Homo sapiens: one gene and its partners. The protein of the gene in region 1 purifies or fractionates together with the protein of each later gene. This does not show direct contact. Each region holds a gene or a part of one and is shown in the gene's direction. Other genes may lie near its edges. The genes, in order: SSH1, PALD1, AFG3L2, CORO2A, PGM3, OXSR1 and PPTC7.

Region 1 (4,580 bases):
GGGGCAGGCTGGGACCACTGCGTTTGCGAGTGCTTGTGCAACATGCAGAGGTTGGGGGTGGGAGCCGGGAGATGAGATTTTGGCTAAAAGAAAAGTTTCCTACTACTAAGTCAAGCCAGAATTGCCTTCTTGGTATCTTATTCCATGTTCCCCTCTCCATCCCCATAACTGGTCACCTCTCCCCGGGACAACAGCAGCAGCCTCCTCCCTGGTCTCCCTCAGCCCTCTGCCCCGTGGTCCCTCATCCACGCAGCAGCCGGAGCGATCTTTCCAGAGAGGATGGAGACTCCAGCCATTCCTCCCCTCTTCCCTTCCCTGAGTGCTGGCCTCCGGTTGACAAACTTCTTCCTGCTTCAGGGCACGCTGATCCCCCCTGCTTGGAGAGCTGTCTCTCTGTTCTTTCACCTGTTAATCCTGCTTATGCTCAAGCCCAAGCCTCAGAATAAAGCTCTTCTGGGAAGCCTTCCCTGACCTCCAAGGAGTTGGCTGGGTTTCAGAACACCCAGAAAGAATTCATTGAAAAAGATTAGCAAAATACTTTTTTAAAAACGTGCCTAATAACTTGATTAACCTCTGCAAAATCAGGCGAATCTATTTTGCTTACTGTTTTTGTTTTTTGTTTTTTGTTTTTTTGAGACCGAGTCTCGCTCTGTCGCCCAGGCTGGAGTGCAGTGGCGCGATCTCAGCTCATTGCAACCTCCGCCTCCCAGATTCAAGCGATTCTCTTGCCTCAGCCTCCCGAGTAGCTGGGACTACAGGCGCGCACCACTGCGCCCAGCTAATTTTTGTCTTTTTAGTAGAGACGGGGTTTCACCATGTTGGCCAGGATGGTCTCGATCTCTTGACCTCGTAATCCGCCCGCCTCAGCCTCCCAAAGTGCTGGGATTACAGGCGTGAGCCACCGCGCCCGGCCCCAGGACGTCTTTTATTTCCTGGTCGCTGTACAGTCCTGTCTGCACGGTCGCCGGGCCTCAGTTTCCCCAGGCAGAGCAGCGGGCAGGGCCCCTGGGGCGTACGGGCTCCGGGCGGCGCGCGCGCCCCCGAGTCCCAGGCCTGATAGCGGGGCGCGCGGGCGGGGGCGCGTGTGTCGGGCGCGCGAGGGACGTGATCGACCAGCCGAGGCCTCGGGCAGCCCTCAGGGCCCCCGCGCACGCGCGCCTCCTCGTCCCGCCCTGCCCGCTTCCCCGCCCACTCCGCGCACTGAGGCCTGCGCGCGCCGGCGCGGGAGGCGGGAGCTGGGGGCGGGGGCGGTGGCGACGCCGAGGGGGAGGGGCGGGCCCGGCCCGGCTCGGCCCGGCCGCCCGCGCGCGGCTCCAGGAGGCCCCGGGCCCGGCCCGGGCGGCGGTGGCGGTGGCGGCTCTAGCTCGAGACGTCTGTGGCGCCCTCGCACCGCGCCGCAGCCATGGCCCTGGTGACCCTGCAGCGCTCGCCCACGCCCAGCGCCGCCTCCTCCTCGGCCAGCAACAGCGAGGTGAGCCCCGGGCTCGCCGCGCCCGGCCTGGGCCGCCGGACGCCGCGCCGAGGCCGCCGGAGCTGGGGCCGCGCGTGCGGGGCAGGGGGGCGGCTGCGCGGGCTCCTCGGGGCCCCGCCGTAGGAACAGAGCCGGGCAGCCGGACCGGGGTGACCGTGCGAGGACTGTGTGCGATGTGACCCTGTCTTGGGGAGCTGTGCGGGGACTTTGTGTGCGGTGTGACCCCTATCGGGGGGCGACTTTGCAGGGACTGTGTATGCAGTGCGACCCCTCTGGGAGTGTCTGCAGGATACTGTGTGTGCGCTGTGACCCACATCAGGGGGTTACCCCCATCTTGGGGTGACCCCTGTTAGGCGGAGACTGTGTGCGTTGTGACCCCTAAGGGTGACTGTGCAGAGACTGTGTGTGCAGATGTGACCTCGTGATTGTGTGGGGACTGTGATTTCAGGTGTGACCCCCATCTTGGGTTGACCTCTGTCTGGGGAGGACTGTGCGTCTGTCGGGACTCCCATTTGTGAGTGACTCTGCAGTGTGACCAGGGTCCAGGGGTGACTGGATGTGCAACTGGGACCCTTGATTGGGTGACTGCGTGAGCCGCTGGTTCTGAGACCTGTGGCCGGGGTAGTTCTAGGCCCTTTGCCTGTATGCCTGGCTGTGCGATGTGAGATGTGACTGTTGCTGACCTGCCGTCCGGGGACTGTGCCAGCGTGAGACAGGCATCTGGGAGTGCCCCTACAAACGTGTGAGATTGTTTCCCCGCCTGCCGCCTCTGGAGTTCTGTCTGTAGGCGTGCCCGTGTCACTGTGTGACGGTGACCGAGCGTGCTGTGGGCTCTGTGTGGCTGTGTTTCACGTCTGTGCGTGCAGCCTTAGTCTGGCTTTTCCTTTCTGTAACATCACTCAGGCCTGTGTGTTTATGTGCATCTATCTTTCTGTGTGGCTGTGACCCATTCTGGGTGATTGCATAGGTGCATTCCTGGGTTGCGTGTCCTGGCACTGTGCGCGTTTTTGTGGGTCTGTGTGTGGCCCAGGTCCGTTTGCCTGGCCACTTTTTCCTCTGGGGTTGATTGAGGGCACTGTTGCCCTCTTAGCCTGCAGGGTTGGCCTGGCTTGTCCTAGGCTGGGGCCTTGGGCCTCTGAGCAGGTCAGCCCTCTGTAGCTGCAGGGATGACCCTCTGGTCGCGCAATCTTGCCCACCATCTCTTGAAGAACCCGTCAAGGCCTCTGGTCTAAACTCTTACCTATAACAAGGCTGAGTGTCCGCCTGCAGACCCTTAGCTGTGTTTAGAGAAGACTGGAGGAGCGGCCCTGCGGTCCCAGGCCCAGGAAGTTCCGCAGCCAGCATCTGGGCTCTTCAGCCCCTTTCTTTGTGGGAGGGAGTGGGGGAAGTTGACTGATAACACGGGGGAGGTTTGTGTGTCTGAGAGAGACAAGAGAATAATGTTTGCATTTGGCTTGACAGCCCTGTCTCCTGGTAGGGTAGTTCTTCAGCCTTGTTTTGCTGGGATTGGCAGGGACATTTTCAGAGTGGCTGGGAAGTTGAACCTTCACAGCCCCCTCCTTGGAGAGGAGAGGCCATTCATGAGTTATCTATACACAGAAGGTTCTAGTAATCCCCCTCTACACGCTGATTAGAGGCAAAAGAACACTGGCGATCAATAGCCTGCTACTGAGAAGTTAGGTTGCAGGAGCGCCTTTCCTTCCCACAGCGAGGAGGGGCTGTTTTCTGTTCCGGTCACTGCTGTCTGGCAATTTATGCACTTAATCTCAGGTTCTCATCACAAAAGTTTATGTGAGGTAAGGGGAGAGGTTGGCTTCAGGCTGAACCTGTCAGCCCAGATTTCTGATTCAAAACCCCATGTTCCTAGAGTTACTTGCAACCTAATCTGTTCTTGTCTTACGCATTTTAAGGTCTTATTATTTTTTAGTTACATACCATAAATTTGCCATTTTAAAGTGTACAATTCAGTGGTTTTTAGTATATACATGAGATTGTGCAACCACCACCATCTAATTCCAGAACATTTTCATCCTCCCCAAAATAGGAACCCTGTACCCGTTAGCCCTCACCTGCAGCCTCCCCCTGCCCCATTCTCCCTAACCTTAGGCAACCACTAATCTACTTTCTGTATCTATGGATTTGCTTATTCTGGACATTTTATATAAATGGAATCACACCCTGTGTGGCCTTTTGTGTCTGGCTTCTTTGACTCAGCATCACGTTTTCAAAGTTCATGCATATTGTAGCATGTGGCAGTACTTCATTCCTTTTCATGGCTGTATAATACTCCATTGTATGGATGTACCACATTTTGTTGGACATTTGTGTTGTGTCTACTAGATACATTTTCAATTATTATATAAAGCATTATTTTTACCAAGTGCCAATGACCCTGATAAACATAAAGTAAAACTCAGGCAGCTTTTATTTGATCATAGCAAAGCTGCAGCATTCATTGCTTGGCTTTGAATGCGCTGGGATGTTTCCCGAAGGCAAGGCCCTCGTTCAGATGTGTTGAGGTGAGAAGCAAGGTGGGATGGAGACAGCAAGTGTGTATGGGGTCAGGAGACCTAGGCCAGGCCGGTTCTGCCCTGGTCCGCCCTCGCTTGAGTTGCTTCCTGTGTGTGGGCCCTGGCTCATCTAAAAGGACTGAATTACCTCTTTCATGTGTTCCTTGGCAGATGTAGTTTCCCTGGAATAACTGACCTGAGATGGCCTTTCATCTGAGAACCTCAGAGAGTGACCGAGAGTTAAATGATTGTGAAGTCCGTACCCCCAAGTCACGTCATCACTCTTCAAATTGCAACTTCATAATGAGTCAGACACTTAGGGCAGTGCTTTCCTGACACAGCCAGGCCTGCTGCCGGCGTGGGAAACGGGGGATCACAGCCCTCAGTCCTAAGGCTCTCTTTTCTCTTTTAATTTTCTTTTTTTCCCAGTCTTTGATTATGTCACTTATGTCATTTTCCTGTGAATCTTATCTCAGTTCCTTTGTGTGAACAGGCAGAGCACAAGAATAGATAAATCAATAATTTTCAGGAATGGATCATAACATTGTTATTTCTGAGAAACATTCAAAGTGACTAATTTTCATGGGCAGATCTCCAGG
Region 2 (4,143 bases), on another chromosome or scaffold:
TTGAGACAGGGTCTCACTTTGTCATCTGGGCTGGAGTGCAACGGTGAGATCATAGCTCACTGGAGCCTCAACTTCCCAGGCTCAAGCGATTCTCCCACCTCAGCCTCACGAGTGGCTGGGACTACAGGCATGTGCCACCATGCCTAATTTTTGTATTTTTTTATAGAGATGGGGTTTTGCCATGTTGCCCAGCTTGTTTTGCACTCCTGAGCTGAAGCGATCTGGCTGTCTCAGCCTCCCAACGTGCTGGGACCACAGGCGTGAGCCACCGCACCCAGCCAGGTTCCAGTTCTTAAGGGAGGGCCTCTGGCTCGGGGGTGTTCACACACTTGGCTTCCTCAACACAGAGGGTGCACAACCCTGACCTGTTGGGTGTCGCTGGAGCTAAGTGAGGGAGCCCCTGCCTGTCTTGGCGCTGGGAGCCTGCTTGGGGAGACCAGCCCTGCACCTAGAACCACAGTGCCTGGTGTGGTCACCCACATATCTCCCCTGACCGCAGATAACCACAGCATCTGGGATAGGGTGAGACACTTAGAAGAACTTACAGCCTGGCAGAACTGTGTCATGAAGGGAGGGAAAGACTGTCTTCTGGGGAGTTCCAAGGCTTAACTCCTGCCCTTGCAGGGATGGGGACAGGGACAAGACTGCCTGAGGAGTCTGTCCTTAACACCCTGTCCTCTCTCTCAGGGAAGCGGCAGCCGACACAGCGTCTGGCAGAGGGCGCTGTGGAGCCTGGAGCGATACTTCTACCTGATCCTGTTTAACTACTACCTTCATGAGCAGGTGGGGCCTGGGAGGAGCAGACCCACGTCCCCTCCTCCTGGGCCTCTCCCAGCCTCCCCACCGCAGTGACTGGCTTGCTGTGGAGGGAGACCCCCCAAGGAACCGGGGAGGGAAGGGAGGCCAGGAGAGACCCAGATTCGGGAGTAGTCCCTGAGCAGCTGGGCATAGGGAGGCCCCACCTCTTTCCACCGGGCCCTTGTCTCTGTCCTTAACCAGGACACCAGACGTCCAGGTCTTCTCTCAGCCACTCCCTTGTCCCTGCTCTGGGCCATGTTGGATATCTTTTGGGGCTTCCCCTGCCATGGTGTGGGCAGGGAGGGTTCAGGATGGCCCTGTGCCCCTGAATTCCTCGTCTCTCTGCCTCGGGCTGCAGTACCCGCTGGCCTTTGCCCTCAGTTTCAGCCGCTGGCTGTGTGCCCACCCTGAGCTGTACCGCCTGCCCGTGACGCTGAGCTCAGCAGGCCCTGTGGCTCCGAGGGACCTCATCGCCAGGGGCTCCCTAGTGAGTATGACTGGCAGTCGGAGAAGTGGGCATGGCTGTGTACTGGCCCTGGCCCCTAAACACTGGATTCCTGTAGGGTTGGGGTAAGCATTGCCCTTGCAGGAGGTGAAGAAGAGAGGCTGTGGGTGTTGGGATCCTCTTGTGAACAGAATGGGGTCATGCTTAGGCCCCAGCAAGCATTTGCAGCTTTGGCAGCTGTTCTGGTACCTTCTCCTCAGTCTCAAACCCAAGAGCTCTGGGCAGGGTTCTATGATCTTTGCCTCCAGCTTCTTCTCTTTGAGCCTCAGCTTCCTGGTCCAGAGAGTGGGCACCATTGCACTTCTTCTTGCCAGGGCCGGGGGAAGCTCCAAGTGTGCAGGAGTGCTTTGTAAACTGTGAAGCTCGGGTTCCACCCCACCCCCCGTCTGCCTTGGGCCAGGTCCTGACCCTTTCTGCGGCTACAGTCGGCTGCTGTGGGTCCCAGGCTTGGTGCTCTCCCCACAGCGGGAGGACGATCTGGTCTCCCCGGACGCGCTCAGCACTGTCAGAGAGATGGATGTGGCCAACTTCCGGCGGGTGCCCCGCATGCCCATCTACGGCACGGCCCAGCCCAGCGCCAAGGTGACCGGCCCTCAGGGCCTGGGTCCCCCAGTGGGTTTGGGGAGGGAGGGCTGAGCACTCACTGCCGGCCCTCCTGTGCCCAGGCCCTGGGGAGCATCCTGGCCTACCTGACGGACGCCAAGAGGAGGCTGCGGAAGGTTGTCTGGGTGAGCCTTCGGGAGGAGGCCGTGTTGGAGTGTGACGGGCACACCTACAGCCTGCGGTGGCCTGGGCCCCCTGTGGCTCCTGACCAGCTGGAGGTGAGGCCCCCTGCCCTCTAGGCACCCCTGCCTCCGAGGCTTCTGGGGAGTGGCCTGGGAGGGTCTTCAGAAGGCCTCACACTCCCGCAGACAGATGGAGAATCTGAGGCCCCGGGAGGAGCAGTGTCAGGGAGTGGCCAACTCAGGATTCCCACTAAAGTGCTCTGCTAACCTGCTTGGCTTTGGGGGGTGGCTGTGACCCCTGAGGCTTGGGGGGGTCAGGGATGGGACTGGAAGCCAGGGCCAGGCCTGGCCATGGCAGGCTGTGGCCTTTCAGGGCTAGCCTAGAGCCTGCCCCAGTGGCCTGTGTCCTCCCTCCTGCCCTTGCCCAGACCCTGGAGGCCCAGCTGAAGGCCCATCTAAGCGAGCCTCCCCCAGGCAAGGAGGGCCCCCTGACCTACAGGTTCCAGACCTGCCTTACCATGCAGGAGGTCTTCAGCCAGCACCGCAGGGCCTGTCCTGGCCTCACCTACCACCGCATCCCCATGCCGGACTTCTGTGCCCCCCGAGAGGAGGTGAGGGTGCTGCTCAGGCTGAGGCCTCTGGGGAGGGACAGGAGGCCTCCCTGTCTCCCCTCTGGTCTGGGCTCTGGGAGAATGAAACGACCCCAGCTTCTCTACGGGGCCCGGGAATGGTCTCACGAGGTTTTCCGATTTGGCCCAAGTGGTTTATTCACATTCCTTCCAAGCTTTGTGTGTGTGTACGTGTGTTTATTATGTGTTATAGGGTATATGTGTGTGTATTGTTATAGGTGTGTGTGTATTGGAGTGTGTATTCTGTTACGTATGTGCATATGTGTTATAAGATGTGTGTACATGTGTTTATTATGTTGTAGGGTGTATGTGTGTGTATTGTGTTATGGGTGTGTGTTATAGGTGTGTGTGTGTTATCGGGGTGTGTGTGTATTCTGTTACAGGTGTGTGTGTGTATTTGTTATAAGGTGTGTGTGTGTGTTGAGGGTGAACATGTCCAGGGTGTCCGTGGTGTGTGTGTCTCAGTTGGGGGACTGTGTATGGAGTGTGTGGGTGGTGTGTGGAATGTGTGTGTGTGTGCATGTCTTTTTATGGAGTTTGTGATGTCTCCCTTGTCTGTATTGGGGGCTGTGTGTGGAAAACCATCTTTAGGGGAGTGGTGTGGTGTGTGGTAGGGTTTGTGGAGGGGTCGTTAGGAATGTGTGTGTGTGGCATCTGTAGGTCTGTGACTGTGGGTGTCTGTATAGTGTGTGTGTTTACCGGACGTGGATCCCTGTGTGGTGCGTGTGTCTGGCGTGTGTTGTAGGTGAGCCACCGTGTGCGTGGTGCGTGTGTTGTAGGTGGGTCGCTGTGTGCTGTGTAACTGGCAATGGGGTCTGTTACCCTGCCTGAGCCCCTCCTGGCGCATCTCTTCGCGGCTCTCACTGCCTGCGGTCTGCTGCCTCCTGGTGGCCTTGTGCTGCAGGGCTCTTCTGAGGTCAGGCCCCCGTCCATGGTGGGACCAGGGCTGGGTCCAGCTCAGGTGGGTGGCAGGGCCAGCAGTCTATGTGCAGCCCAGGGGCGCAGTACACAGGGGTGACATACAGGTGCATGTCCTGCCTGATGGAGGGTGGGTACCTTGAGCCCCAGGTGCATGCTGTGTTGGCTCACACATCCTGTCCAGGTGCTTGGTGTGAGGGTGATTACGACTGCACAGGTGCAGCTGTTTACACGCACATGGTCTCATGCACCCCGGTGAGTTTTGTTTGTGTGTGCAAGCTTGGGAGCCTGACAATTTCTGGCCCGAGGACAGTGGCTGGGGCTGCCATGTGGATGGGGACCCTGTTGGGGTTTGTGCATCCAAGAGACGCCCGCTGACCCAGACCTTGCTTTTCTCGTCCAGGACTTTGACCAGCTGCTGGAGGCCCTGCGGGCCGCCCTCTCCAAGGACCCAGGCACTGGCTTCGTGTTCAGCTGCCTCAGCGGCCAGGGCCGTACCACAACTGCGATGGTGGTGGCTGTCCTGGCCTTCTGGCACATCCAAGTACGTGTGGCCTCTCAAGTGAGA
Region 3 (4,143 bases), on another chromosome or scaffold:
GTCAGGGCTCATATTCAGTCAGTAGACACGAGTACAATAGGAAATAATTATGTGCTGATTGGTAGAATAGCCTTGACCTGGCCCCTGAGGTGTCCCTGTGCTGGGCCCTCTGGGTCTCTGCAGCTCTAGAGAATAAAGAGGGAGTGCCTGGCACAGCAAGGCGCATCTGTTCCAGTTGCACAGTGGGGTGCGGTGCTCGGATTTTGAACATCACCCCCAGTGATGGCACCTGCTTCTTAGGATGGTCCTCAGGATTGAATGAACTAATGCATCTGAAGGGCCCAGAACAATGCCTGGTACTTAGTACATGCCCAGTAAACTTTAGCTCTTATCCCTGTTTCACAGTAGTTTTAAATTTGGGAATAGGGAGCTAAAATACCTAGGAAATAGAGGAAGAGGGAAATAATGCATATTTATTTTAAAAAGGATTACGTTTTCAAATAGGTTTTTCATTCTGTTTTTTGAGTTTATAATTTTAGAGCCACTGAGATATTGCTGCTAAAGAAATGCTTATTTGCCAAGAATTGCCAAGTGTTCTCAATGAGTGACATTTAATCACCACCATTATTAAAGCCAGTCTTTTATTATTGTTTATTCTTTAATTTATAAATTTTCAGTATTTCTGGAAAATTCTTAAAAAGTTGAACCGTTTAGTGAATTGAACCTTTTAGTTTCACTACATTCTTAGGATATTTGTTTTTTTGTTTTTATAGCAATACGTTTGGTTTAATATTGGCAGTGTGGACACCTTTGAACGGAATCTGGAAACTTTACAGCAGGAATTGGGCATAGAAGGAGAAAATCGGGTGCCTGTTGTCTACATTGCTGAAAGTGATGGGTAATCTCAAATATAATATTTTGTAGACTGTTGACTGTGCTGCCTGTGGTTCACTGTGTTCTGTCCCTGGGTGCAGGGCTATACATTATATTCTCAAACAGGCCTTTATCAGTTTGGCCAGATTTTTAAAAAACTATTAGTAACTCACTAGTTTTTGCATGACTCATTCATTTTCTTTTTTTTTTGAGGTGGGGTTTCGCTCTGTCGCCCAGGCTGTAGTGCAGTCGTATGATCTTGACTCACTGCAACCTTTGTCCCCACCCCAGTTCACGCGATTCTCCTGCCTCAGTCTCCAGAGTAGCTGGGATTATAGGCTTCCACCACCATGCCCAGCTAATTTTTGTATTTCTAGTAGAGGCAGGGATTCACTATGTTGGCCAGGCTGGTCTTGAACTCCTGACTTCAGGTAATCCACCTGCCTCCGCCTCCCAAAGTGCTGGGATTACAGTTGTGAGCCACCACACCTGGCTTTTTATCTTTATTTTTATTTTTATTTTTATTTTTGATTCATTCCTTTTGTACACATTTATACTTATCTTGATGAAGCAGTGGTTTAGGGTATTAACATTCAATGCATTGACCTTTGGTAGGATTTTAGCATAAAGAACCCCTTTGTATCAAAGAGTGCCATTCCCATCTTTGAACTATCATTTATGTTTACATTTCACAGTTTTCCAGGATTTTTAGGTGATTCTTCTCTCATCAGAACTTCTTCTTTGGGGGTTGTCTTTAATAAGACCATGTTAGTAACCCCACTTAAAGTCTGGGCAGATGCTCCATTTATTTCGAAGAGTTGGTTGCCATGGAGCTTATTTGGGAATTCTGTTGCCTTTGAAGAACACTTGCAAGTTACCCTCCTTTGTATTAAGTGCAGAAGGTATACCTTGGTGTAGCTATATATATTTATATTGATATCTTGCACCACATGTGAAAGCTGGAGGTGAGCAGCCAGTCCTAACCCGTGTTGCGCTGTGTGTCCCCAGCTCTTTTCTGCTGAGCATGCTGCCTACGGTGCTCATCATCGCCTTCTTGCTCTACACCATCAGAAGAGGGCCTGCTGGCATTGGCCGGACAGGCCGAGGGATGGGCGGACTCTTCAGTGTCGGAGAAACCACTGCCAAGGTCTTAAAGGATGAAATTGATGTGAAGTTCAAAGATGTGGCTGGCTGTGAGGAGGCCAAGCTAGAGATCATGGAATTTGTGAATTTCTTGAAAAACCCAAAGCAGTATCAAGACCTAGGAGCAAAAATCCCAAAGGTAAAATGAAATTTAAGATTAACTTTTTGAAATGTTTCTTGATCTCTGAAGTTATAATTCTGTGAAGTTTGATTACTTATTATAGATAGCTGTTTTTCTGTCCTTCCTCTTTCTCAGCTTACTAGGCTAGCCTCTGCCCAACTCGAGGATCGTTTTGGGTCAGTTCTGTGTGCATGTGTCTTGTATAGTGTATGTATTCCTGAAAATATCTGTGTCACCTCCTCTTGGAAGATTTTCTTGATTCGTCTTCCTTTTCCCTCCAATCTGATTTAGATGCCCTATCTCTCAGCAACTGTAGGCCCGCTGTAGCTCACTGACAATGTCACACTCTGCTGTCACCCAGTGTCCCTTCGAGGGATGTATGTGGACAGGACACCTGTGCTGGCGCTGAGGTTCACGGCACAGGATCCAGTGGAGAGGACACAGCACTCACCATCACCTTCCCCTTTCCAGCAAATATGCTCTTGCCCACTGTGCTAGTGGTGGGCTGTACCCTACAGGGCTTGGTGCCCCTAGGGCTAGGCGTGGAGCATTAACTTCATATTTGTTAAATGGATCAGCTATTAAGTAAATGAATAAAAAGGTATAATTCTTTTAAAAGTCCATGAATAAATTTTACTTTAAAGGAATCCTTTGAAAGATAATCATTTCCTTGATTTTTATGTCTTACTTCTATAGATAAAAAGTCATATTTTATGAATTTATAACTTACTTAGTACCCGTTTGCATTACACCTAACTGTCTCTACAACTTAATATAATAGTTGTGTAGGGCCAGGCGCAGTGGCTCACTCCTGTAATCCCAGCACTTTGGGAGGCTGAGGTGGGTGGATCACCTGAGGTCAGGAGTTCGAGACCAGCCTGGCCAACATGGTGAATCCCTGTCTCTACTAAAAATACAAAAAATTAGCTGGGCATGGTGTTGTGCGCCTGTAATCCCAGCTGCTCAAGAGGCTGAGGCAGGAGAATCGCTTCAACCTGGGAGGTGGAGGTTGCAGTGAGCCGAGATCGTGCCATTGCACTCCAGCCTGGACAAGAGTGAAACTCTATCTCAAAAAAAAAAAAGTGTATTGTTTGAGCAAACACATCTTTCTTTGAAGTTAAGTTCATCATTGGTCGTTAGATTTCTACTTCATTTGTGAAACTTTTAAAGAAGAAAATAAGCAAAATTTTAAAAATACCTTAAGGTTTTATTACAAAGCCTAGAAAAAATATCATTTGACCATATTATCTACCTCCTCACAGTATTTGGATATGGTAGTGTGGTAGTATGTCTATAAATAAGAGAGGATACTGTTTGTGGGTAGTCAGTGGAAATAAAAACAAATTCACAGTTAGGTTTTAAGTTGCACGTCCAACCATGCTAAAAATGTACTGATTTGTACATGAAAGTAGAAGTCAGAAGTTGGGTTTATTAATTATTTGAGCTCAAAAACCAATTTTACTTGTAAAGAGTAAAAGAATTACATAAATCAGGAGTGTGGTGTTGGTGTCTTCTTAAATTATTTAAGTAAACCTTAGCAGATTTATTAGTATATTCCTAGCCCAAGTCACCCTTTACATACTGTTAGACTAAAGGTCTAAAAATCAGCCCTAGGAAAAAAAGGAAATATTTTAAATTTCACATTCTTACCAAATTTTTTGAAACAAAATTATTTTTGATAATCTTTTTATTCTTACTAATATAAAAATGTTCTACCATAGCTCAGATGTTTAAGTAATATTTAATATATATCAATAAGATTTAGAGACAGAGTTATATCTTGTAATTATTTGTGGATACACAATTTACTTTTCTGGAATTCTCATTAAATGTAATTTCTTTTTTCATATCTGAAGGGTGCCATTCTCACTGGTCCTCCAGGCACTGGGAAGACGCTGCTAGCTAAGGCCACAGCCGGAGAAGCCAATGTCCCCTTCATCACCGTTAGTGGATCTGAGTTTTTGGAGATGTTCGTTGGTGTGGGCCCTGCTAGAGTGAGTCTCATTCTGTTCGGATGGTACAGCTTCCTTGCACCCACCACTTCACCACAGATGGAGGCACTTGCT
Region 4 (4,143 bases), on another chromosome or scaffold:
GCTCTGGCTGGACACCTTGACCTTGTCTCTTCCCAACTCCAGGCCCAGATGTGGGGGGACCATTGGTGTTTCTCAGCAGGGGCACCTGCTAAACTGGGGGCAGAACAGGTCTCCACTGGGTAGGACTATCCCATGTCTGGCAGCCCTGGCCCCTGCCCACCAGTGCCAAGAACAGCATCTCTCCCCCTCCATCCAAGTCATTATGACAACCAGAAATGTTCCCCATGGTAAGACCTTCTGGATGACCTCTGAGGCCACCCCAGTTCTGACTTTTGCTGCTGCTCTCAGATAGGAGCGGGATTTGGACTTGTCTTCCCAGAGCTTCTGTCTTAGAGGAAAAAGGGTGGGCTTTGGGTCATGGTGGGGGAGGATTGAATATTAAAATAAGGGCCCAGGCCCAGCACAGTGGCTCATGCCTATAATTCCAGCACTTTGGGAGGCCAAGGTGGGAGAATCACTTGAGCCCAGGAGTTCAAGGCCAGCCTGGGCAGCATAGTGAGACCCCATGTCTACGAAAATGAAAAAATAAAAAATTAGCCAGGCGTGGTGGCACACACCTGTGGTCCCACCTACTCGGGAGGCTGAGGCGGGAAGATGGCTTGAGACCAGGAGGTTGCAATGAGCTGTGATTGCACTACTGCTCTCCAGCCTGGGCAATAAAGTGAGACCCTGTCTCAAAAAAATAAGATAAAATCTAAAATAAAATGAATATCCCCTCATCACCCTCCTGCCTTGATGACAGGGCCCCCAGTTTCCTGGTGTTCCCTTGAGTGAGATGGGTTTGCCGATCATCAAAAAAAGCCAGGTCTTTGCTGCATGGCTGGGTTGCTGATGAGCTGATGAGCTCCAGCTCTGAATCTCACCCTCCTCTTCCTTCTCCTCCTCCTCAGGGAGATGGCAACATCCGCTACTACGAGGTGAGCGCCGACAAGCCTCACCTGAGCTACCTGACTGAGTACCGCTCCTATAACCCACAGAAGGGGATCGGTAAGTGAGGGACACTGAAGTTCATGCCTGTAATCCCAGCACTTCGGGAGGCCGAGGTGGGAGAATCAGGGTCAGGGCTTCAGTGCGGGGTCTGGGGAGACAGGGATGAGTCAGATGGGAGGAGAGACAGCATAGCAACACTCTGACTTGGTGGGGGCTGTACTTGACGTGTGCAACAGCACAAAGGAGGAAGTCAGGGAAGGCTTCTCAGAGGAGGCAACATTGGAGGAACTGAAAGAGGAAGCAGAGCCCAGCAGGGGAGAGAGGGATGTGTTCTAGGTCAAGGTTAAGCAGTTACCACAAGAGCAGAGATGGAAAGGGCTGACCTAGAAGAGCCTCTAGGAAGCAGTCCTCAGTTCCTTTCTAAGTGTGCTTGAGGATTAAAAACACAGCTATATTTCTGTAATCTACAAGAAACCCACTTTAAACATAAAGACATGGCTAGATTAAAAGTAAGGGACTGGAGAAAGATGCACCCTGCTAACCCTACTCAAAAGGAATCTGGAGCGGTTTGATTAAGAGCATTTGGGTCACAGGAGCTGTGGGGATGGAGATGGGGAACCTTAAGCAGAGCAAACTGCCTATAAAAGTTCAGCTAATCCAGCACTTTGGGAGGCCAAAGCTGGAGGATCACTTGAGCCTAGGAATTCGAGCCTAGCCTGGGCAACAAAGTGAGACTCCTGTCTCTACAAATAAATAAAAAAATTGAGGTGCATACCTGTGGTCCCAGCTACTTGGGACGCTAAGGCAGGAGGATCGCTTGAGCCCAGGAGTGTGAGACTGCGGTGAGCTATGATTGTGCCACTGCACTCCAGCCTGGGCAACAGAGTGAGACCTTGTGTCAAAAAGAAAAAAATTCAGCTAAAATAATTTAAATCTTTGAAGGTGAAGAGTCTGATTAATTCAACTCCATTTCCCAACATAGGGCCCAGCCCAGTGTCGGTATTTGTCCCTGAGCTGTTTTCTGGGAGGAGACTGGTCTCTGTTCAGGTCCAGGTGTGCAGCCTGGCTTTGGCCCTAACACTGTGGCCCCAGCCTAGCCAGAACCTCTTGGCCCTCCCTGTCTGCCTTCAGGTGTCATGCCAAAGAGAGGACTCGACGTGTCCTCCTGCGAGATCTTCCGCTTCTACAAGCTGATCACAACCAAAAGCCTCATCGAGCCCATCTCCATGATTGTGCCCCGGCGGGTAAGGGCAGTCGGGACCGCATGGGAGGCAGGTGGGGAACCTGTCCTGGAGAAGACAGACCCAGGGCTGTCGGGCACCAGAGCCTGGAGCCCACGTTCATGGGGCAGCCACAGAGCGGCCTTTCTCACAGCCAGTGTGACATCAGTGGGCGTCAGGAGTCCTGGGTCTCGGTCCACCTCTGTTCTTGAGCTGCTGCGTGACCTCGGGCAAGTCCCTTTGTTCTCTGGGCCTCAGTTTCCTCAATTCAGCAGGGGTTGGTGAGAGCCTGGACTCCCAGGTCTAAGGGCCTTTCCCATCTGAGCAGCCTACCCTACCACCCTCCTCACTGTCTGGATTTCTCCTGCAGTCAGAATCCTACCAAGAGGACATATACCCTCCAACAGCAGGGGCCCAGCCCTCCCTGACGGCCCAGGAGTGGCTCAGCGGGATGAATCGAGGTGAGGAAGGCAGAGAAGAGGCCCAGGCAAATGTGACAGGAACATGGCGTGCCCAGTGGCCCCAAGCAATTGAGAGGGGTTGGGCCTGGATTTTTCTTCTCTCATGACCTCAGAAGCCATGCCCTTGACCTTCAGTCCCCAGTGGGTAGCATGGTCACATACAGGTCCAGAAAGTCAGGGGGCTTGACCCAAGAGCTCAGAAAACTCCAACTCAAGGGACTTTGCCCCACGGAAAGCTTCTTTACACTCTGGGGCTATGTGGGGTGCCTGGACCACCTCAGCCAGACTCCCTGTCCCTGTTCCCCACCCCTACCTCTGCAATTCTTTTTTTTTTTTTTTTTTTTTTTTTTTTGAGACAGAGTCTCGCTTTGTTGCCCAGGCTGGAGTGCAGTGGTACAATCTCAGCTCACTGCAACCTCCACCCCACCCCCAGGTTCAAGTGATTCTCATGCCTCAGCCTCCTGAGTAGCTGGGACTACAGGCACGTGCCACCATGCCCAGCTAATTTTTCGTATTTTTAGTAGAGATGGGGGTTTTGCCATGTTGGCCAGGCTGGTCTCAAACTCTTGACCTCAAGTGATCCACCTGCCTCGGCCTCCCGAAGTGCTGGGATTACAGGTGCGAGCCACTGGGCCTGGCCTTTTGCAATTCTTCTTGACCCAAGAAGCCCTCCAGGCAGCAACCCCCACCCAGGTCCCTCTGCCCACTCTGCCTGTCCTGAGCCACTCTCCCGCTCCTGCCAACACGGGGGCCAGCCCAGCAGAAGCAGTCACCCCAGCTGCTCCCTCTCCCTTCCACCCCCACAAACTTCCTTCACCCCCACCCCAGTGGCTGAGCGGGCCTCCTGGTGTACTGGAAGAGCCTCTGCCTTGGGGGGCAGCGGACCAGGGCCGAGTCCTAGTTTTGGATAACCTTAAGTAGGTTTTGCTCCCTGGGCCTCAGTTTCCTCATCTGTAGCCATGATGCCAGCCTCCCCTGCTTTCTGGAGGTGGTGAGAGAACTAATGAACTTGGTAGATGGTGGGGTGCAGTGTGGGTGGGACTGTCCTTACAAAGCAAGGGCAAGGTCTCATGTGAGTTTGAAGTGTTTGGGGGCTGCTTCAGTGCACGCACCGTGCTGTTCCTACAAACCAAGCTTCACTCTGAGGGTGGCACACGTGGGTATTTGTATCTGTTAGCCCTGCTCTGTGGGTTTGGGCCTGTCCACAGGTAGCTGTATTTCCCACACATGTTGCATGGGTCTGCATGGCTCTGAGTGTCTCTGCATGCCTGCCTGTGTCATTGGTGCCCCATATGCCCATCTTCCCGTGGGCACCCCGTCCTCACATGGCTCTGCTTCCCTTCCAGACCCAATCCTGGTGTCCCTTAGGCCTGGCTCTGAGCTGCTGAGACCCCACCCACTGCCTGCAGAGAGACCTATCTTCAATTCCATGGCCCCAGCCTCACCCCGGCTCTTGAATCAGACAGAAAAGCTGGCTGCAGAAGATGGCTGGAGGTCTTCCTCCCTGTTGGAGGAGAAGATGCCAAGGTGGG
Region 5 (4,143 bases), on another chromosome or scaffold:
ACATGTAGCTTTCAAAAAACCTTTATGGGACACCTGTCTAGCCAAACCAACCTGCTTATAAAGTGGAATTTTATGGTAGTATTATAGCAAATATCAGCATAGATTTTGAATGCTCCTTTTTTCACTTTGCAGTGAAAGAATTTGACCTGTAAAAACCACTAATAAACTATGTACTATTTAAAGATTATACACTATTTAAGATTAAGACATTGATTTTTAGGTGGATAATTTTAAGAGAAAATTCTAAAACTCTTTATAATAAATTCTTAGACTGAAATGCATGTTAAATTATCCTGTGTGCTAGGAATGGAAATTAAGTCCAATGAAAGATGCTGTTCTTTTGATGGAGATGCAGACAGAATTGTTTATTACTACCATGATGCAGATGGCCACTTTCATCTCATAGATGGAGACAAGATAGCAACGTTAATTAGCAGTTTCCTTAAAGAGCTCCTGGTGGAGGTATGGTGGGGGGATTGGCTACCCTCTAAAACAAGACTTAGTAGTGAAATAGTTCCATATTTTACAATCATTTGTCAGAAGGGCACAATTTATGACAAATTCTTTACATTAGTGGGCAGAAAATTAAAAAAAGAGCAGTGGTAATACCCAGTCATTTGAACATTTGAGGCATTGGCTTTGGAACCTGAAGGTACTCTTTTCCTCCTTATACTGGCTGAGTTTTGTGATTTGAAGCTTTAGGAAGTTTTGCTTCCATCATAATTGAAACTTTGATGACAGTTCTGTGGTCACTCCATAAAAGCCCTAAATTCTAATAGGAAATCTCATCATCTGATATATTAACTGATTATGATAAGCTTAGTAATGTGAGATTTGTTTCATTTTGCTATTTTAGAAATAAATCTCAGGCTAGCTTTAAGTACACAATGTAATTGGAAATTATTATAATCTGGAAACAGCATACTTTAAGAATTTAATAGATTTTTTTTTTTTTTTTTTTTGAGACAGTGTTGCTCTGTTGCCCAGGCTGGAGTGCAGGGGCGTGATCTCGGCTCATTGCAACCTCTGCCTCCCTGGGCTCAAGCAATTCTTCTGCCTCAGCCTCCCAAGTAGCTGGGATTACAGATGCATGCCACCACACCTGGCTAATTTTTGTACTTTTAGTAGAGATGGGGTTTCACCATGTTGGCCAGGCTGGTCTCGAACTTTTGACCTCAGGTGATCCACCCACCTTGGCCTCCCAGAGTGCTGGGATTACAGGCGTGAGCCACCGTGCCTGGCCAGATACTTTTATTTAAAAAATTAAAGAGGTGAAGATCAGGAGATACAGGCTTCTTAAAAGAGGAATTCTCATAGAATTGTTTTAAATAGTGTTCAAATGTATTTTAGGCTTTTTTCCTGGCATACATGTAAATTTTCAGTCAGACATTTTTGGCATAAACTAAGGCACAACTGAACTGGCTGATAATTTTGGTAGCCTTTAGAACTCTCATTATATTTGTTTTTGTAGACCATACTTTTGATGGCAAGTTAAGTATCATTGTTTTTGTCTAGATTGGAGAAAGTTTGAATATTGGTGTTGTACAAACTGCATATGCAAATGGAAGTTCAACACGGTATCTTGAAGAAGTTATGAAGGTATTGAACCATTTTTGTTTTCTGGTAGTTTCTTAATTAAGATCATGTTTCTGTGAGAAAGATACTGCCCTCATAAAAGTGATTATGTTGTAGTGCATGAAGCTGAGCTGCTGTTCATGTAAAGGTAAAGAGAAATAAATAAGAAAAAATTTAGTTGTCCTTGATGAATAAAGGAAAACTTCTTTCCTTCCTTTTCTTGGAGTTTTCCTTTAGAAAACTTGGAATTCTTTCTCTGTGCCTTTGTAATGAATGTAAGTCTTTCTAAAGGCCTAATAAGCCAGTTTTATAGCTCAGGAATACTTTTCTTTAAGGGCCTAGAGTCACCAATTTCAAATATAAACATCAAGGAAGATAGCTCACCTATCTCCCAGTCTCAGGAGAGTTTAACTTAGGTGTTTGCGTCCAATTTGTAACTATCTACCTGTCACAGAGGTATGAAAAGTTTTATTACTCCTTTAGAGAAGGGCAGTTAACACAGGTGGCCATCCCTATTACCAAGTAAGTTTAGGATAAACTATGTGTGTGACAAATGGTGGTTTCAAGTTTTCCTATTTGAGGACTAGTGTTAAAGAAAAAATAATTCATGACACTTGTTAAAATGGTAAGGCAGACTTGATTCAGGACTGTTGTGATAGGTACAGGGACTAATGTGATGGAGTTTTGCAGTGGTAGGAGAAAGATTGGGCTCAACTCCAAATATAGTAAGGAAAAGTAGGGCTTTATAGCCAAGGAGCAGGGTGTGTGGGGGGTGGTCAGTGGATGAAAAATTACTGAGAGGAAACATGAGGGTAAGTGGGTGGTATTTTGGCTAAACTGATCTAACAGGACTTTTGCTGAAGGTAGGCCAGGGCGGTCACATATTACCTGGGGGATGGTAGAGAATGAGAACTCAGATCAGATGTCAAGAGTGGTCATGTATCAGGATGAGGGATTCTCGCTAAGCTCACTTAGCATGACTCTTATTAAAATCGGGCTATTGGAAGACATGCCTAAGGACAAGGCCTAGTCAGGCCCACCTAAACCTAACTAAAGTTTGGTCAAGGAGAGAATTTTTGTCATTAGCCATCTTTTATCTTAGCAAATTGTATTGGAATGTGTCCGCTTGGCTATATTAAAGGGTGAGCGTTTATCTTTGCTATCTCTTAGCAAATTAGCCTGTGATTGAACATCAGTTTGGCTTAATACTTATTCAGTAATAAAACTGTTTCTTACCCTTCTTTTTTTTTTGGAGAGGTTTTCTGGGGTGGTGGGAGATTCTGTTTCTAATTATTTCCCCGGTGTCCACCAGGTGACCACCCTTGGCACCACACTACTTGCTCGGAGAGTTACCAGGGTTCATGGACAAAACTGGAAGTCTGTTTGCCTATACTTTCTCATTATCGAGAAGTTTTCCAACTTTTTTGTACCTCATTTTGTACCTCGTTCTGGCATTTATACTAGTTTTAGTTACCTTTCCATTCTCTAGAAAGCAGGAATTACAAAGTCAGATTCCTGCAGGATTTGGACAGGTAAAGTGAATGAGGGCAGCAGGGGGCTAAAAACAGGTCAGTATGTGCCAGCTGATGTCAACTGTAGTCACACTCTTCAAGAGAAGCAGGAAATCTGAATTTTCATGTGATGTTCCTATTTGTTTAAAAAGAAACAGTGGCTGGGCAAAACGAAATATATCTTGAGGCTGCTAGTTTATGACCTGATTTTAATATATGGTTATAATAAGCTCATTCAAGGGATTCCATCTGGGGCCCATTTGCCTGCCTTTCACAGGGATTGGGTTATTTCACAGTACTTGGGTTATTGTTTTAGGATTTTCATTTTCTGTCTTAAAAATTTATTACAGATAAAATAACCTAGTTTAAGAAACTGTTACTTCTCAACTCACTGTCTTCCAGATGAAATATTTTTAGCCCTTGCCATTCCTGAGGTCTCCTACATCCAATCTAATGCTGATCTTTCTTTTGCAGTTTTTCTACTATCAATCTTTCCTTAACCATTCTTAAAGCTCTCTCAGATCCATCCATCCATGACTTTCCCTATTCACTATTGCTGATCCAGCCACTATTTCTTACTGGGATTAGTCCTAGAAGCCTCCTCATTCCATTTCTTAACCTTCTAATTGAACTTGCTGCTATTTGCAAACAAAGTTTTATTGGAATAGAGCTATGTTGATTTGTTTATGTATGGTCTGTGGCTGCTTTTGCACTGTAATGGCAGAGTAATTGTGACAGAGACCATATGGCCTGCAAAGCCTAAAATATTTACTGTCTGGCCTGTTACAGAAAAAGCTTGCAATTCTGCTCTAAGCTATTCTCCACACTGTAGCTAAACAGCTTTCTAAAACAGTTAGGTCATGTCACGCCCCCACTTGTAATCTTTCGTGTCTTATAAGGAGACCCTCATCTCTCTCACCGTGCTTTACCCTTGGCTGCGTGCTTCCAGAGTGTGTTCATGCTTCCATTGTATACGTACCATTTTGTATTTTAATGCTTAATCGTCTTCCTCACTGGACTCGGCCCCAGTATTTTGTTCCCCTTTGTATCTCTGGGA
Region 6 (4,143 bases), on another chromosome or scaffold:
AGAATCTCCTCTTAGGAACATATTAAAAGCCTATAGATTGAAAATTCAAAGGACTTTTTTTTTTTTTTAAAGAATTGTATCACCTTAAGCATGCTTTGGCAAGATTTGAAGTTCTTTAAGTATGATTATGTGTAAAAGATGTTAGTATCATTCTCACAATTAATCATTGATCTTTCAGTATTTTTGAGCCCTTAGTCTTAGATTAGAATTTCTGAGCATGTGTTATACTGTATTTGGCATGTGTTGAAGCAGCTGTAAAAATTTGGGCTTTGGGGTTAGACTGACCCAGATTCAAATCCTGACATTGCCTCTTACTAGTTATGTGATCTTAGACAAATTATATGATTAGTTTCCGTGTCAGCTTTTTGTCTGTATAGTGGGGAGAATAGTACCTATGTCACTGGGGCCGTTATATAGATTGAGTGTAATTATTTGTGGGAAGTGTTTAGCTTGTATAAAATGATAGTTGTTATTATCTCTGACTTTTTTTTACCCTTCCCCTTGTCCTCATATTTCCCAATTTTTGGTATTGCCATGAAATATGAAATACTATGTGATGTGAAAGCTTGTGACACTTAAAATAGTTTGAATCTGTTTTTAATGCTTAGTGGAACATTATTGCATTTATTTTATTTTCGCATCTTTTTTTTTCTTAGTCCAGGCCTCATTCAGGTTTAGATGGATTTAGGGATTTATGTTGGACATCGTAGTATAACTGTAAGGACCATCACCATGATATTGCTAATAATACAATATGATGGCAGAGAGGGCTGTGCCAGTTAGGTTTTATTGCCCTGCATCTTGAAAAGTCTCAATAAGTATTTACTATTTACCTCAGACTAGAAAATTGAAAACTTAATACTAGGTTTAAGGTGTGATTCACCTAGCTTTGACACTTTGAAGGCAGTGCAATATATTTCTATTCTTGACTTTCCCTTCTTTTTATTTTCATTGATTGTTTACTAGCCACACATTTTGAGTTTAAAGTTGTGGTTTTCAAATACAGATTCCAGGGCCTTACCTTTAGCGCCTCCATAAATGTGAAGGACTTCGTGCTTTCAATAGAGTGGTGCTTAATAGTGTATTTTTCCATTGATTGGGAGACTCAGCTAAGGTGACATTTTCTATGAGGCCAGCATTGGGCCAACAACCTCATAGTGTTGTATCAAATAAGGCTTACATTTCTCTGCATGTGGGGAAAATGGAAATAATAGTGGCTTAATAAAATCCTTTTTCCCCCTTATATAACAAGAAGACTGGAGGTGGCAGCCTAGGTGCTGTCAGGCACCCAGGCTCCTAGTTTTTTCATGCGACCACACTTAGCAGGTGACTCTCCTTCTCATAGTTGGAAGATGGTTGTTCCACCTCTAGACTCATGCTTGTGTTCTTGTCCAGAAGAATATGGCAAAAGGACAAAGACACATGACAGCTGAGTTGGTTCTCTTTTAAAAGGCTTTCTTTCCTAGATGCCTTACTCAGTGACTTCCACTTCTATTTTACTGGCCAGAACTGTATAATTTGGTCATTTGCAAGGCAGACTGCAAAATGAAGCTTTAGCTGGACACATTATTACTTCAAACAAAATAGGTCAGGATTATCTTACTAAAGAAGGGGAAATTGTATGTTTGCTAAGCAACTAAGAATATTGGCCTCATTTTTTTTTAAAATGAAAATAGTCAAATAGGGTATTGCAAGTAAATAATTTAACCTGATGCATAGTAATCAGTTAATAAATGTTAGCTTTAATCTGAAGAGGTAGTTGCCTACTGATTAAGAGCATAATGTTGAAACTCAGGTAGTTCTTATTTCTAGGCCCTACTCTGCCTAACTAACTGTATGACCTAAGTTTTACCTTAATTACATTGCTTTACTTACATTGTCTTGTAAGACCATGAATACCTATCACATGGAATTATTGTAATGATTAGATGAAAAGAAGAAATGTAAGTAAAGAAAGTGCTCAGCATAGACTTGGCACACAGAATGGATGCTCAGTGAATGTTAATGTACATGATGGTAACGATGAAATAACACCCATGAAGACTGGGCTATTTCTGTGTGTGTTCTGCCCCAAACAAGATTTTTTTTCCTTGAAAATATACCCCACTATGTGATTAATTCATTCAGCAAATATTTCTTGAACTCCTGTTATGTGCCAGGCACTGTTCTGGATGCTGGAGATAAAACAATGAAGCAAACACAAAAAATGCCTGCTTTCACAGAGTTTATAATCTAGAAACTCTAAAGAAGAAAAAGCAGGGAAAGGGGTTAGGGACTGCTAGGGGTGGAGGTGGGGTTTCAGTTTTAGGTCAGGGAAAACCTCACTGAGAAGATGACAGTTGAGGAAAGACCTGAAGAAGGTGAAGAAGTGAATGATGTGGTTATCTGCAGGAAGTTTGTTCCAAGCAGAGGACAACAAGAACAAAGGTTCTGAAGCAGAAGCATGCTAATGTGATTAAGGAATGCTAAGGAGGTTTGAGGGCAGCTAGAGCAGAGTAAATCAGAAGGTGAAGAGACAGATAGGTGAAGAGGTTAGAAAGGTAAGGTGGTATGGATGCTTGGTCCTGATTGTCAGGTTGTAAGTTGTTGTAGGAACTTGGCTTTTGCTTTGAGTAAGACTGAAAATCATTGCAGGGTTTTGAACAGAGATTTAACGTGACCTGACTTTCGTTTTAAAACTCAGGCTGCAGGCTGGGCGAGGTGCCTCACCTGTAATCCCAGCACTTTGGGAGGCGGAGGCAGGTGGATCACATGAGGCCAGGAGTTTGAGACCAGCCTGGCCAACACGGTGAAACCCCATCTCTACTAAAAATACAAAAATTAGCTGGGTTTGGTGGTGCATGTCTGTAATCCCAGCTACTCGGGAGGTTGAGGCATGAGAATCGCTTGAACCCGAGTGACAGAGGTTGCAGTGAGCCGAGATGGCGCCACTGCACTCCAGCCTGGGTGACAGAATGAGACACTGTCTCAAAAACAAACAAACAAACACCTCAGGCTGCAATATGAAGAATAGTTTTATAAGGGCACAAGGGTGGAAGGAGGTTATCCAGGGGAGAGAAGTAGTAGTGGAGATGGTGAGAAGTGGTCAGATTCTGGATATAGCATATTTTTTGAAGTTAGGAGGATTTGCTGTTGGATTAGATGTGAGAGAAAGGGAAGATAAGATGATTCCAAGATTTTTGGCTAGAGCATCTGGAAGAATGGAGTTGCCATCCGCTCAGATGGGAGATCACCAGAGTGAACAGGAGAGCGAGTGATGATTCATTGCAAAACCATCAGGCTGCTTGAATACTTACTTGAAGCATATGGCAGTGTCTTTATTTTCATCTTTGTATGGAGAGAATAGCATGATTTTTATGATGATGACTATTCTTACAGATGTTTTGCCAGTTAATTTTCAACATGACTCTGACAAGAGACCTTATTTAGAAAAGGGGTTAACAAAATTGTAAATTCTTATGTTTTGTGTGGTTCAGGTGACAATACTTTAGTCATCTTTCAAAACAGCCTGGGCTAGTGCTTTTCTTCAGTGAATGCAAAACCTTACTAAAATATACTTTAAAATCTTTAGACTATAAGCCTATTATAGTGATGGCTGGGCACAATTTAGGAGAAAATGTGTTCATTTGATTTGATTCATTTAATTCATTTTTTCCTGACAGGAATATCTACTTTTACATTATCTCTCTCTTTTTTAAAAAATTTATTTTTGAGGTGGGGTCTCGCTCTGTTGCCCAGGCTGGAGTGCAGCAGTATGATCATGGCTCACCTCTGCCTCCCAGGTTCAAGCCATCCTCCCACCTTAGCCTCCCAAGTAGCTGGGACTACAGGCGTGTGCCACCACACCCGGCTAATTTTTGTATTTTTTTGTAGAGACGGGGTTTTACTGTGTTGGCCAGGCTGGTCTCAAACTTGTCAGCTCAAGTGATCTGCCTGCCTTGGCCTCCCAAAGTGCTGAGACTACAGGTGGGAGCCACAATGCCCGGCCCTACGTTCTCTCTCTTAAATTTCTAAGTTTAGTAAAGCGGAGAGAAACTGAAATTTTTTCTTAGTCCTGCTCATGCTTGGGCAGATCCTTCTCTGTCTCAAGAAGTAGAGTTACCCAGTTTGAAAGATTTAAGGAGAAGTTTCATCCATATTTTC
Region 7 (4,143 bases), 1.7 Mb from region 1:
TACTACATGCATCAAATAGAACTTGCAGGAAATGGAGTCAAAATGGTCTTAAGTGACTGGGCACGGTGACTCACGCCTGTAATCCCAGGACTTTGGGAGGCTGAGGCGGGTGGATCACTTGAGGCCAGGAGTTCAAGACCAGCTTGGCCAACATGGTGAAACCCCATCTCTACTAAAAATGCAAAAATTAGCTGGGCGTGATGGCGGGCGCCTGTAGTCCCAGCTACTCAGGAGGCTGAGGCAGGAGAATCGCTTGAACCCAGGAGGCAGAGATTGCAGTGAGCCGAGATTGCGCCACTGCACTCTAGCCTGGGTGACAGAGCAAGACTCTGTCTCAAAAAAAACCAAAACAATAAAACCAAAATGGTCTTGAGGTGGGCACAGTGGTGTAGGACCATAGTCCCAGGTACTTGAGAGGCTGAGGCTGGAAAATCGCTGGAGTCCAGCCTGGGTGACATAGTGACACCCTGTCTTTTAAAAAAAGTGGTCTTGGATATGTTCTTTGATAATGTTATTGAGGTGTTCTCTTTTTCTTTCTCACATCTTTTCTCAGTTCACTTTTAAATTGTCAAGAACGTTCCAAGATGCTGCTTTTTTTCCCCGCCCCTTCTCTGAGACAGAGTCCTGCTCTTGTTGCCCAGGCTGGAGTGCAATGGCATGATCTCAGCTCACTGCAACCTCCGCCTCCTGGTTCAAGCGATTCTCCTGCCTCAGCCTCCCAAGTAGCTGGGATTACAGGTGCCCGCCACCATGCCTGGCTAATTTTTGTATTTTTAGTAGAGACAGGGTTTCACCATGTTGGCCAGGCTTGTCTCAAACTCCTGACCTCGTGATCCACCCGCCTCGGCCTCCCAAAGTGCTGGGATTACAGGCATGAGCCACTGCGCCCAGCCAAAATGGTGCTTTTTTTGAGTTGACTTTTACAGTTTATCTTTTCTTAGATGAGTGTCCAGAGTAAGGCAAAGCCTCAGATTTCAGTGTCTTTAACAATCTTATAGCTTTATAGGACCTGGCACAAACATCACTGGCAATTCATAAATGTTGATTAATGGACAATGAACCTTTTGTAAAAATAGAAGCATTCTAGCAAGTACTTGTCTCTACTTAATAGCTCTCATTAAACCATCTCTTAGGTCCAAACTAAGATAAAATGAATTATTATTGCCATCTTTTAAACTGGAACGAGCATGTTATGTAATTAAATGTTCAGCATTGCCCATCTAAAAATTTAGCAGTAAAAGTAACTTTTACCGGTAAAAGTCTAAATATTCTTCCAATTATGGTCACCAGTCTAAATCCAAAAGTAAAAAGTAAAAGTAGGCGGGTGACCATAATTGGAAGAGTATTTGATTCTAGGCCCTTCTAAAGTTGGCTGTAATCTACATTATTGTTAGCCACACTGGAGTGGGGAGAACTCTGAACCCCAAGGCCTCCGTAGAGCCCAAGCTCAGATCACAGTTTTTGGAGACTGGTGCTTCAATTTTTTCTTCATTTGATTCTTCTTGTTGGGCTTCCAAGCACCAAAGCAGCCCTGCCATATCTCACACACTGTCTGTGGGACAGACAGGTTGGGGCAGTACTCTGCCGGCATGCCAGCGAGGTGGAGGTGGCTTCCCCTAGAGCCCAGAGACAGCTCGCTAGCATGTGATTTCAGCTCATGTTTCAGTGCGGTCAAAAGTTTCCAGCAGCACAGTATGTTCAATCAAAATGGGCAAAACTGCAGCTGGCAGAACACCAAGCTCATGGGTGGGAGTGTTAGGAGAGGACGAACTGTCCAATGGGAGCAAGACTCTCACAGACAGAATAGCAAAGGACACTTCTGGGGAAAGAAAAACCTCAGCATAAAACAGAGCTTCAGTGCCAACCTGGTCATTAATCTACACTTCTAGAATCTGATTAGCTTTCAAAGGCTGAGCAGATGAGAGCGTCTTGCATTGTTTTCTCTTTATTCCACAGAAAGAATTGACCTGATTTCCCCCAGTTTTACAGTCTTTTTCCCTTTTTTTTTTTTCATGCTGCATGTATCTCCTTAGTTAATGGTCCCTCTTATCTACAGAATATTATTTTAACCTTAACTTACAGGTTTTCCTTTAGTAGACATTTTTACAAAATGTTGATTATCTAAATATGTAAGTGAAAGTCGGTTCCCTGCAGCAGCACATGGCAGAACTTTACATGTGCCACCTTTTTCCTCAGTCAAGTGAAGATGAACCAGAAATTTTCTGAGTGCATTTAGTGTGAATCCTCATAGGCATGTGTGCTTTTGTTTGTTAGTTTTTATGCTTTCTCTTCACAAATGTTGTCACATGTTGCTTACACAAGTGTTGGGGTTTTTCCGTGGAGCTTAGGGTGCTTTGGATCTGGTGCCTCCCTTCCGGGTCGGTATCTGATTTGCTTTCCTGGCTCTTGTTCCTTAATTACAGATTAAGGCGGATTATCAGATCTCACCTTTCCCTCCCCAGGGAGGCCTGGAAGGAGGGAAACTGGCCTTAAGAAGTCGCCAAGAACCAGCCTCAGGAGGCCATGATCTCTGAATATAGGATCTTTTCTCCCCACCCGGGGTTTTCCCCCATTTTTATGTCTGTTTTCATCAGGCATTGTCAGAGAAAAAGATCTTCCATCTGTTTTTTTTTTCAAGAGTTGTACACAAAAAAGTTTAGTGAGACATCTGCCTCCTGTTCCTGCCCTTAGCCACATATTCTGTCCTCAAAGGTTTCTTTATGAGCAGTTTCTTTAGTTTCTTTTTCTTTTTTTTTTTTTTTTTTTTTTTTTTGAGACAGAGTCTCGCTCTGCTGCCCAGGCTGCTGGAGTGCAGTGGCGCAATCTCGGCTCACTGCTACTGCTGCCTCCCTGGCTCTAGCAATTCTCCTGCTTCAGCCTCCCGAGTAGCTGGAATTACAGGTGTGCACCACCATGATCTAACTTTTTGTATTTTTTAGTAGAGACAGGGTTTCACCATGTTGGGCAGGCTGGTCTTGAACTCCTGACCTCAAGTGATCTGCCCACCTTGGCCTCCCAAAGTGCTGGGATTACAGGTGTGAGCCACCACCCACAGCCCGCTATGAGCAGTTTCTTTGATTCTCTCCAGATCTATTCCCTGCATATAGAAGCATCCATGTCTGTGTGTCTTTCTGCCTTTTTTTTTTTACGGAAATGGTTGCACATACGACACACCGTCTTCACCTTGCTTTCTTCAACAGTATATTGAAGAGTTTTTTCCCCCAATTTGGAGAGTCAAATATTTTGCTGCTTCATTCAGTTATGCAACAGATATTTCTTCTATTTTTTTTTTTTCTTGAGATGGAGTCTTGCTCTGTTGCCCAGGCTAGAGTGCAGTGGCGCCATCTCAGCTCACTGCAACCTTCAGCTTTGGGGTTGAAGCAAGTGATTCTCCTGTGTCGGCCTCCCAAGTAGCTGGGATTATAGGCGCACGCCACCATGCTTGGCTAACGTTTGTATTTTTAGCAGAGATGGGGTTTCACCATGATGGCCAGGCTGGTCTTGAACTCCTGACCTCAAATAATCTGCTTGCCTCGGCTTCCCAAAGTGCTGGGATTACAGGGGTGAGCCACCACGCCTGGTCAAGATATCAAGATATTTCTTGAAGACGTGTTACATGAGGCACACTAATAAATACCTACGTATGATGACCACTTTGGGACCCTTGGGAGACACAGAGTCCTTACTATGCCAAAATACTGTAGCTATTTCCGGTGAATGTATTCTTTTTTTTTTTTTTTTTTTTTGAGACGGAGTTTAGCTCTCGTTGCCCTAGCTGGAGTGCAATGGTGCAATCTCAGCTCACTGCAACCTCTGCCTCCCAGGTTCAAGTGATTCTCCTGCCTCAGCCTCCCTAGTAGCTGGGATTACAGGCGTGTGCCACCACGCCCAGCTAATTTTTTGTATTTTTGGTAGAAACGGGTTTTAACCAGGCTGGTCTCAAACTCCTGACCTCAGGTGATCCGCCCGCCTTGGCCTCCCAAAGTGCAGGGATTACAAGCGTGAGCCACTGCGACTGGCAAGTGAATGAATTATTTTTTTCCTTTTTCTTTTTCTTTGAGATGGAGTCTCACTCTGTTGCCAGGCTGGAGGGCAGTGGCACGATCTTGGCTCACTGGCTCACTGCAACCTCCATCTCCCGGG

Evidence for each region.
Region 2: the proteins of SSH1 (region 1) and PALD1 purify together in Homo sapiens (affinity purification with western blotting; one study listed by BioGRID). This does not show direct contact.
Region 3: the proteins of SSH1 (region 1) and AFG3L2 purify together in Homo sapiens (affinity purification with mass spectrometry, with the first as the bait; one large-scale study listed by BioGRID). This does not show direct contact.
Region 4: the proteins of SSH1 (region 1) and CORO2A purify together in Homo sapiens (co-immunoprecipitation; one large-scale study listed by IntAct). This does not show direct contact.
Region 5: the proteins of SSH1 (region 1) and PGM3 purify together in Homo sapiens (affinity purification with mass spectrometry, with the first as the bait; one large-scale study listed by BioGRID). This does not show direct contact.
Region 6: the proteins of SSH1 (region 1) and OXSR1 purify together in Homo sapiens (affinity purification with mass spectrometry, with the first as the bait; one large-scale study listed by BioGRID). This does not show direct contact.
Region 7: the proteins of SSH1 (region 1) and PPTC7 purify together in Homo sapiens (affinity purification with mass spectrometry, with the first as the bait; one large-scale study listed by BioGRID). This does not show direct contact.

The regions. Positions count from the first base shown.
Region 1 is NC_000012.12:108,854,319-108,858,898, reverse strand, and holds the start of SSH1 (protein phosphatase Slingshot homolog 1), read left to right. Parts: upstream 1-1,315; 5' UTR 1,316-1,402; coding exon 1,403-1,471; intron 1,472-1,604; exon of another isoform or gene 1,605-4,580. UniProt on the Homo sapiens protein: Protein phosphatase which regulates actin filament dynamics. Dephosphorylates and activates the actin binding/depolymerizing factor cofilin, which subsequently binds to actin filaments and stimulates their disassembly.
Region 2 is NC_000010.11:70,537,124-70,541,266, forward strand, and holds part of PALD1 (paladin), read left to right. Parts: intron 1-687; coding exon 688-783; intron 784-1,156; coding exon 1,157-1,285; intron 1,286-1,768; coding exon 1,769-1,885; intron 1,886-1,968; coding exon 1,969-2,124; intron 2,125-2,456; coding exon 2,457-2,639; intron 2,640-3,978; coding exon 3,979-4,119; intron 4,120-4,143.
Region 3 is NC_000018.10:12,356,622-12,360,764, reverse strand, and holds part of AFG3L2 (mitochondrial inner membrane m-AAA protease component AFG3L2), read left to right. Parts: intron 1-713; coding exon 714-838; intron 839-1,821; coding exon 1,822-2,095; intron 2,096-3,933; coding exon 3,934-4,071; intron 4,072-4,143. UniProt on the Homo sapiens protein: Catalytic component of the m-AAA protease, a protease that plays a key role in proteostasis of inner mitochondrial membrane proteins, and which is essential for axonal and neuron development.
Region 4 is NC_000009.12:98,126,638-98,130,780, reverse strand, and holds part of CORO2A (coronin-2A), read left to right. Parts: intron 1-890; coding exon 891-987; intron 988-2,061; coding exon 2,062-2,174; intron 2,175-2,520; coding exon 2,521-2,611; intron 2,612-3,957; coding exon 3,958-4,143.
Region 5 is NC_000006.12:83,176,129-83,180,271, reverse strand, and holds part of PGM3 (phosphoacetylglucosamine mutase), read left to right. Parts: intron 1-304; coding exon 305-462; intron 463-1,515; coding exon 1,516-1,599; intron 1,600-4,143. UniProt on the Homo sapiens protein: Catalyzes the conversion of GlcNAc-6-P into GlcNAc-1-P during the synthesis of uridine diphosphate/UDP-GlcNAc, a sugar nucleotide critical to multiple glycosylation pathways including protein N- and O-glycosylation.
Region 6 is NC_000003.12:38,171,613-38,175,755, forward strand, and holds part of OXSR1 (serine/threonine-protein kinase OSR1), read left to right. Parts: intron 1-4,143. UniProt on the Homo sapiens protein: Effector serine/threonine-protein kinase component of the WNK-SPAK/OSR1 kinase cascade, which is involved in various processes, such as ion transport, response to hypertonic stress and blood pressure.
Region 7 is NC_000012.12:110,541,304-110,545,446, reverse strand, and holds part of PPTC7 (protein phosphatase PTC7 homolog), read left to right. Parts: intron 1-4,143. UniProt on the Homo sapiens protein: Protein phosphatase that plays an essential role in mitochondrial metabolism and biogenesis. Positively regulates biosynthesis of the ubiquinone, coenzyme Q. Dephosphorylates the ubiquinone biosynthesis protein COQ7 which is likely to lead to its activation.